2 separate regions of the Homo sapiens genome follow, and region 2 is linked to region 1. The links come from fine-mapping of genetic effects on gene expression. A gene starts in region 1. The other region holds a variant in brackets. All regions are shown on one strand. Distances are between the middles of the regions.

The links. PIP is the estimated chance that this variant, and not a neighbour inherited with it, causes the effect. A credible set is the group of variants that fine-mapping cannot tell apart.
Region 2: its variant is the best candidate, but not a certain one, in a credible set for the expression of MPZL2 in blood mononuclear cells (TOPMed, PIP 0.80).

Annotation. Positions count from the first base shown.
Region 1 is chr11:118,262,465-118,266,857 of GRCh38, reverse strand. MPZL2 (myelin protein zero like 2) reads left to right here and starts at 2,561. Exons shown (of 6, transcript NM_005797.4): 1 at 2,561-2,762; 2 at 3,761-3,927; 3 at 4,210-4,393. The coding sequence starts at 2,705. RefSeq lists an enhancer at 2,760-2,809.
Region 2 is chr11:118,185,175-118,189,567 of GRCh38, reverse strand. No RefSeq gene overlaps it. Among named protein-coding and RNA genes, the nearest start is that of SCN2B, 11 kb to the right of the region's middle. The variant T/C (reference allele first, on the strand shown) is at 1,925.

The DNA.
Region 1 (4,393 bases):
CTGAATTTTTTCTAGTAAAAACATATGAACAGACACTTTTGAGTAAACGAATGCTTTATTTGATGACCCTAAGAGCTAAATTATTTGTTTTCCTTGCTTCACAGAATGCTAATTTCACCTTAGGTGAAAAAAAGATTTTTGCCTAGGAGGTTGAGAAAGACAACTTTTACAAATATTGATACAGGCCCACTGTCCCTTCTGTCTCCTGAGCCCCCAGTGAGTCTCCTGCTGGCTAAGGTCTAGATACTCACTAGAAATCATTTTTTGGGAAATGTGTAGATGGATGGGACAGATGAGATTCTTTCAAAAACTATTGGTATGTCACAATTTTAAATGACAATCAGGATCTTTCTCTGGAAAAGTTTAGAAAGAAAATGGTGTCTCTGAAAACTTTACTTTTCTTCTTTTCAATTTCCAGAACTCCTCTTCCTTTCCTTCCATTTGCCTGGGCACAAACATAACTTAGGCCTTATGTAGATGCCTGCAGTTTTGGTCTAAGTCCTGCTGACTGGTGTCCAGAAAACTGTGAGGGGCAAACATCCTTTTTATTTAGCATTTTCTCTTCTTAACCTTCTACCCTTGGCCTCTTCCTTGCCCAGTGAGGTGAAGTGGTTGACTGTGGAGCCACTCCTGCTAACTGGAAGGAACTGGGCGTTGCCAGGCACTAAGCCAGGAACTTGAACTCAGCTGAGAAGTGGGATCTGGATAACTCCTGCCCCTCAGAGCAAGGCTGGCAACCAGCTCATGGGTGTTTGGCTACCTGGGGGAGGGATTTCTGCTCCTGACAACAGGCAGTTTGTTCAGTTCTTCCTGCCCTGATTCTTCTCCTGTTGCTTTTCACTGCATCCCTGAGCTCTTTGGTAACTCTACCTCTCACCAGTTTTTGCAATTTGCTGTAGACTTCAAAATCCTGGCTCTACCTCTCCTTCCTCTGTAGCTGTATTTCCCTGCAAAGTTGGAAGCCAACCAAGATCAAGTTTCCTTAACTCTTTTTCTTTCAGGGTCCTGGAGCTGAACTCTTCTGACCTACATACCAGAAAGGCTGTATCTTATCCTTCCTCACCAACATCTGAAAGGTTCCCCCAGCAGACTGATTTTAGGTCCCTTTCTGAACTAGAATCTGACAAAGACGCCACACAGTTTTCAGAAACTCTCACCATGCAACAGATTTTCACTAGCACACAGCTGGTCTGCATTTGGGGCCACCTCTGCTTTCTGAGTTCCAACACAATGGATTTTTGTGGTTGTCTACCTGTTTTTGCTCCATGCCCATGTCATCTTTCTCCTGTTGCTTTCTGTTTTCTGCACTTCTGCATTCTCCTCTCTTTTGGTAGAATTTTCTCTTTTCTTCCCTCTTTATGATGTTTTATTTTTTTCTACTCAGCCTGCCGCCTTCTCTTGTTCCTGCCACCCTTTCTGCTCTGGATTCAGCTAGAAGATTTTATGAGTGACTGAAGAGTTTCTAGACTGCTAATCCAGGGATAAACGCAATCTGTCTTTTTTCAGGGTTAGATTCCCAGCCCAGCCTACTTCTTAACTGCATGTGTAATCTTCATCCCCCTCCTACCGATGTTTCTGTGCCGCTTCATTAATCTGTAAAGATGACCCACCCTCTTTCCAGACAAGGAGGCATCTTTTCTCGTTTAGATTCCTCAGCTCTTTAGACTTCTCAGTCATTTAGCTATTCAAAAAATGACAGATGAAATCCGAGGCACAACAAAGTTATCATGAAAACCTTTTCCTTGAGAGCCCCATGTCTGATTGTTCATATTAGCTGTTATTTGGTGGAAAGAACGCTAGATTTTTAAGAAAAGTTCTGGTTTTGCCACATGGTAGCTGTGCAACCTTGGGCAAATCATTTACCTTCCTCGGGTTCTTAGCGTCCTCACTGGTAGAATGGGAATGCTTCACAAGGGCGTTAATGGAGATGAAACAATCAGCAGGAGAGCACTTTGTAGATTGCACTCGGATGGCAGGGTGAATGAGCAGGGATGGTGTCCTCATTTGTTTTTAAAGTCTTCAAAGGTAAAGGATTGTTAAGCATGGAGATTTGATTTGTTGTTTCTGCCAGGTCTCCTGGAAAGCTACAAACTAGAAGAAGTGCAGGAATCCTTGTGGTAACAGGGGTATCAGCTTTTTGTCCACAGAGGGTCCTAAGGAATTCCGACTCCCGTTTTGAAATTGTATCGAATCCAGTCCCAAGTGAATGTGGCCCTGGGGTGGTGCTTTGAGAAGTGGAATCACTGCAGGACAGTTTCAACATTCACTTCCCAGGCAAGCCTAAAGCCTGTTTTAAAAGGGCGTGTGGGGGCCAAACCCATAACAGTCTGGGACATTTCAGACTGGCACCACCTCCTCTGGCTGTTTCCGAGGCCATCTAGAGGCCAGAGCCCAGTCAGATTAACTGAAAGTAAAGAGAGGACTGCGGGAGTTTGGGACCTTTGTGCAGACGTGCTCATGCTCGTTCGTGTAGAGGGCGGGAGAGAGGAAAGGAAGGAGGGCATTGGGAGCTGAGGCCCCACCTTTCATTTCAGAAAAGTGCACAGGCAGAGCGGGCTGAGTCACAGGCACAGGTGAGGAACTCAACTCAAACTCCTCTCTCTGGGAAAACGCGGTGCTTGCTCCTCCCGGAGTGGCCTTGGCAGGGTGTTGGAGCCCTCGGTCTGCCCCGTCCGGTCTCTGGGGCCAAGGCTGGGTTTCCCTCATGTATGGCAAGAGCTCTACTCGTGCGGTGCTTCTTCTCCTTGGCATACAGCTCACAGGTAAGAGCCGGCGGGCTTCTCTCAGAGTTTCCTCCTTCACTGCTCACTCTATAAAGTTAGCTAATTGTCTTAGAAGTTGCAAGACTTTTGTTTGGGAGCCTGAGCCACAGATACAGTTTGTTTTACTTTGGGTTTTACTGAAACCAAAGTTGGTGGACTGTTTTTGGAGAACTGCTCTCGGACAAACAGGTTTAGGTGTGTTCAGCTGCCAGTGATTCAGGCACAGAGAGGGCTTTCTAATCTCAGGTTACATGCCATTTTTTTGTGTGTGGCTGTTCTCAACCTCCCACTGCTGGCAGGACTTGGCATTTGGATTTCTGTGTGTGGGTCTTGTCTGTGACTCTCAGCAACACCAGGAAAGTGGAGATTGTTAGAGAGAGACCTACTGTGATTTTGAAAGTGCCCCAACACACACATTCTAAATGTAAATATCAAGTTTAAAAAAATGCCACGTGGTACAAAGGTTCTAGGGGTGCAGGCAAACATAAGCTGTCTGGAGTTGATTAATTCAGTTTCTGCAATAGACTAGTAACAGTATGAAATCCACCTAAGGACCCATCTGGAAAACTTACCTGCTAGGAGACCACTTTACATACAACACATAATGCTTAACCTTAATACATAATGTAATGTCTAATCAATGTTATGATTCATTTTAATTTTTTGTTTATGCTTTCAATTCTATTTGCGGATGTTTGTAGTTTGTTATAACAGTTTTGAAGTCAGTACCACGAGGCGAGGCTTTAATGCTGTGGAGAAAGTAAAAGCACTGCGAAGGCTTGCTGTGTGGTAGTTTAGTTGTCACATGGAATGGGAGGGTCCAGGCTGCATACAGGTAGGAGTATGTAGATTCTGGGTGAAGTAAGTTTGGGAGATGGGGCATCTCAGTTTCACTTTACTTTAAGTCCTACTCAGATATTTATTTTGGAAGTGTCAGCAGAAGTTCTCACAATACTACATCCCCTGTTAACCCTTCTTTTTCTTCTTTTTCATTGCAGCTCTTTGGCCTATAGCAGCTGTGGAAATTTATACCTCCCGGGTGCTGGAGGCTGTTAATGGGACAGATGCTCGGTTAAAATGCACTTTCTCCAGCTTTGCCCCTGTGGGTGATGCTCTAACAGTGACCTGGAATTTTCGTCCTCTAGACGGGGGACCTGAGCAGTTTGTAAGTAGATTATCATCATTTTCCAGGGTACTCTTGTTTAGGGAAATAATAAGCCAGTCCATTTCTCCTTTCCCTTCCAGTATTTTTCTTAGCAGCAAGCACAAGGTTAAGCTCGGAAACAATTCTTGGGACAGAGACTGAGAGGCCGTTGAAGGGGAAAGCAAGTGACAGAGCTGCAGACAGGACAGTTGGGTTTGCTGGTGTTTCACTTCCGCTCCCACCATCTTGGCCTCCTTGCCTGGGTGCTGAGTAAGAAGACCTTTTGCCATTTCCCCTCTCTAGGTATTCTACTACCACATAGATCCCTTCCAACCCATGAGTGGGCGGTTTAAGGACCGGGTGTCTTGGGATGGGAATCCTGAGCGGTACGATGCCTCCATCCTTCTCTGGAAACTGCAGTTCGACGACAATGGGACATACACCTGCCAGGTGAAGAACCCACCTGATGTTGATGGGGTGATAGGGG
Region 2 (4,393 bases), 77 kb after region 1:
CCCACAGAGTGGGAGAAAATCTTTGCAATCTGTATATCCAACAAAGGACTATTATAATATCCAGAATCTACAAGGAACTCAAATAAATCAGCAAGAATAAAACAAACAAACCCATAAATTAGTGGGCTAAGGACATGAATAGACAATTCTCAAAAGAAGATATACAAATGGCCAAGAAACATACGAAAAAATGCTCAACATCACTAATTATCAGGAAATGCAAATCAAAACCACTATGCCATACCACCTCACTCCTGCAAGAACAGTCATAATAAAAAAAAATTTTTTTTAATTTTAAATTTTAGATGTTGGCATGGATGTGGTGAAAAGGGAACACTTTTACAAGGTTGGTGGGAATGTCAACTAGTACAACCATGATGGAAAACAGTGTGGAGATTCCTTAAAGAACTAAAAATAGATCTACCATTTGATCCAGCAATCCCACTACTGGGTATTTGCCCAGAGGAAAAGAAGTCATTATATGAAAAAGATAGGCTGGGCATGGTGGCTCACGTCTGTAATCTCAGCATTTTGGGAGGCCAAGGCAGGTGGATCACGAGGTCAGGAGTTCAAGACCAGCCTTGCCAACATGGTGAAACCCTGTCTCTACCAAAAATACAAAAATTAGCTGGGTGTAGTGGCACATGTCTGTAATCCCAGCTGCTTGAGAGGCTGAGGCAGGAGAATTGCTTGAACCTGGGAGATGGAGGTTGTGATCTGAGATCACACCACTGCACTCCAGCCTGGGTGACAGAGCAAGACTCTGTCTTGAAAAAAGAAGAAAAAAGATGCCTCCCCATGCATGTTTATAGCAGCACAATTCGCAATTGCAAAAATATGGAATCAGCCCAATTGCCCATCAATCAATGAGTGGTTAAAGAAAATAAATATGGTATATATATATATATATATACACATCATGGAATACTACTCAGCCATAAAAAGGAATGAAATAATGCCATTTGCAGCAACCTGGATGGAACTGGAGAACATTATTCTAAGTCAAGTAACTCAGGAATGGAAAACCAAACCTCATATGTTTGGGAATGGGAGCTAAGTGGGAGCTAAGCTATGAGGATGCAAAGAAGAAAATAAATATGGTATATATATATACCATGGAATACTACTCAGCCATAAAAAGGAATGAAATAATGCCATTTGCAGCAATCTGGATGGAACTGGAGAACATTATTCTAAGTCAAGTAACTCACGAATGGAAAATCAAACATCGTATGTTCTCACCTATAAGTGGGAGCTAAGCTATGAGGATGCAAAGGCATAAGAATGATACAATAAACTCTGAGGACTCAGAAAGGGTGGGGAGGTAAGGGATAAAAGACTACACACTGGGTACAGTGTACACTGCTCAGGTGATGGGTGCATCAATATCTCAGAAATCACCACTGAAGAACTTACTCATGTAACCAAACACCACCTGTTCCCCAAAAACCTATTGAAAAAAAAATCCTTTGGGGTTGGGTGCAGTGTCTCATGCTTGTAATCCCAGCACTTTGGGAGGCTGAAGGGGAGGATCACTTGAGGCCAGGAGTTCAAGACCAGTCTGGGCAACATGGTGAGACCCTCATCTCAATAAAATAAAGTAAAATAAAATAAAATAAAATAAATAAAATTGATTAGCTAGGTGTGGAGGTGCATGCCTTTGGTCCCAGCTACTCAGGAGGCTAAGGTAGGAAGATCACTCAAGCCCAGGAGTTAGAAGCTGCAGTGAGATATGATTGCGCCACTGCACTCCACTCCAGCCTGGGCAACAGGCTAAGATCCTGTCTCAAAATAAGAAAGAGGAAAGGAAGGGAAAGGGAAGAGGAAGGAAAAGAAGAAACTAAAGAATATCCTTTGGTTCTGAACAACTTCCAGCCTCTGCGGACCAGCCTGGGTTCAGCTCTGGTCTCCTTTCCTTGACTGC[T/C]ACAGACTCTTTCTTATTCTCTGCAACCCTTTCTTCATATTTAGCCATGCAGGGCCAGATAAAGAGGAGGTCTTTTCTGTTTTTCTGATTTCTGATCCAGTCTTAAATGGGGCTACATTTTTTTTTTCCTTTTTTGAGACGGAGTCTCGCTCTGTCACCCAGGCTGGAGTGCAATGGTGCTATTACGGCTCACTGCAACCTCTGCCTCCCAGGTTCAAGTGATTCTCTTGTCTCAGCCTCCCAAGTATTACAGGCGATTACAGGGATTACAGGCACACACTGCCATGCCCGGCTAATTTTTTGTATTTTTAGTAGAGACGGGGTTTCACCATGCTTCCCAGGCTGGTCTTGAACTCCCAAGCTCAGGCAATCCACCTGCCTCGGCCTCCCAAAGTGCTAGGATTACAGGTATGAACCACTGCGGCTGGTGGGGCTACATTTTTAATGATTTCCCCCAACTCTCCAAACATTAGGATCCTCTCATAACACACAGGTTATGTTCTAGTTTAGACATGGATAAGCATCATTAAATTCTTCCTTCCTATCTGCCAGCTCTTGATGAGGAGTTATGTCAGGGTTTTCCATATGGGTATTGAAGGCAGTATCCTGTCCCAGACATACCAGGGACACATATTGGTGAGACAAGTAGAGGGGGAAGAGGACTTTATTATATCTGGAGTGTTCATGGAGAGGAAGTGGTTTCATTTCTGGGCTATTAAGTAACTTCTCTCCTGGAATAAGGGACCCTTTTCCACTTCCTCAAATATTGTGTGCATTGGAAGATGGCCTTCAGGATACAGAGTTAGGTGGGTGGATGGTGATTTTACATCTGTTGCTCAGGGTCTAAGAAAATAATTAGGGTAAGAGCAGGAGGATGGGCTGGACAGGTTAGCCACATGATCCTCAGCAGGCACTTGGACCGTGAAAGTGTAGGTGTGCCCAAATTCAAATTTGATTCATTCAGAGATTGGCTTCCATTCTGGGTTCGGCAGTTGTGACTGAGGGGGAGGAAGAGGAAGCCCACATCTCTGCTCCAAGTCTTCTTCCCTACAAACCTTCTTATCCACAGGCATGGAGCCAAGGTTGAGGGTGGAAGTCCACAGTTGTCAAACACGAATTTCGCCTAAAGCCGAAGCAGCCCTACAGGGGACTGGGAAAGAGACCGGCTTCTCTCTCAGCCCTTCTGCTAGAGGTGGTTTGTCCATTACACCCAGGAACATGAAGGGAAATTGTGTAGGGAATGGGCTTCAAGATCAAATAGTCCTGGTTCAAATCCTGGCTGCCTCTTCCTCTTCAATATTGCAAAGTGTGTTTAAATCCTTTGAGGCTGTTTTCCTTATATGTAAAATGGAGACTCACAGAAGTTTGTTAGTTTGTTTGTTTTGCAAGGACTGAATGAGGTAGTATAGGGGATAGTGCCTGGCCTGAGCCCTCCCTTTCCTTCAAATGTGTTTTTCCAGGTAGATGTATCTTCTTAACGTCACTCAGAAATGAAGAACCCACTCAGAAATAGGTTATTTTATCTTCTATTTAATGCTAGTCAATCTTTGCTATTCAATCTTAATAACACAATTAACAATAGGGATGGACAATATCTTCTGGTGATTCAGTCCCCATCTCTTAATTTTGATTTCTACGGACAAAAAGCGCTTTACCAAAATCCGTAAATCCCTCTTCCTATCCGAAGAAAGACTGAGTTAGGAAGCTGAGCTTAGGCCAAGGCTTTGTATAGCTCTGAGGAGACAGATTTTGAAGGACTGGAAAGCTACTGAAGATCCCTGTAGTAGAGCCTTTGGAAAGCAGTTTTGTTACCTGAATTTGCAGTATTTTAGATCCCTGGAACATCAGATGCTCTCATATTTTAAGGTTTGCAGAAGTACACAGGCCTTTGCCAACAGAAAGCAGCCCCAAGGCTGGAGGGAGCGGAGCTACTCATGAATAATGGAGAACCTAGCAGCTTCAGAATTTGGCTATCGCAACTGAAAACAGTTCTGCTTGTCCACTGGGGATCGGTAGAAGATGAGCTGAGTCTCCTTCAAAAGGCTGCAGCCTTTTGTCGGCCAGGCGTGGTGGCTCACGCCTGTAATCCCAGCATTTTGGGAGGCCAAGTTGGGCGGATCACCTGAGGTTGGGAGTTTGAGACCAGCCTGACCAACATGGAGAAACCCTGTCTCTACTAAAAATACAAAATTAGCTGGGTGTGGTGGCGCATGCCTGTAATCCCAGCTACTCAGGAGGCTGAGGCAGAAGAATTGCTTTAACTCGGAAGGTGGAGGTTGCGGTGAGCCGAGATTGCGCCATTGCACTCCAGTCTGGGCAACAAGAGCGAAACTCAGTCACACACACACACACACACAAAAGGCTGCAGCCTTCTACCAGCCCTTTAGTTGTCTCTTCCTGGTTGCCCCCAACCAGTGTCCTTTTCTCCCTTTTGACTAGTCGGTATGCTCACCTGTCTGTTGGTAATTG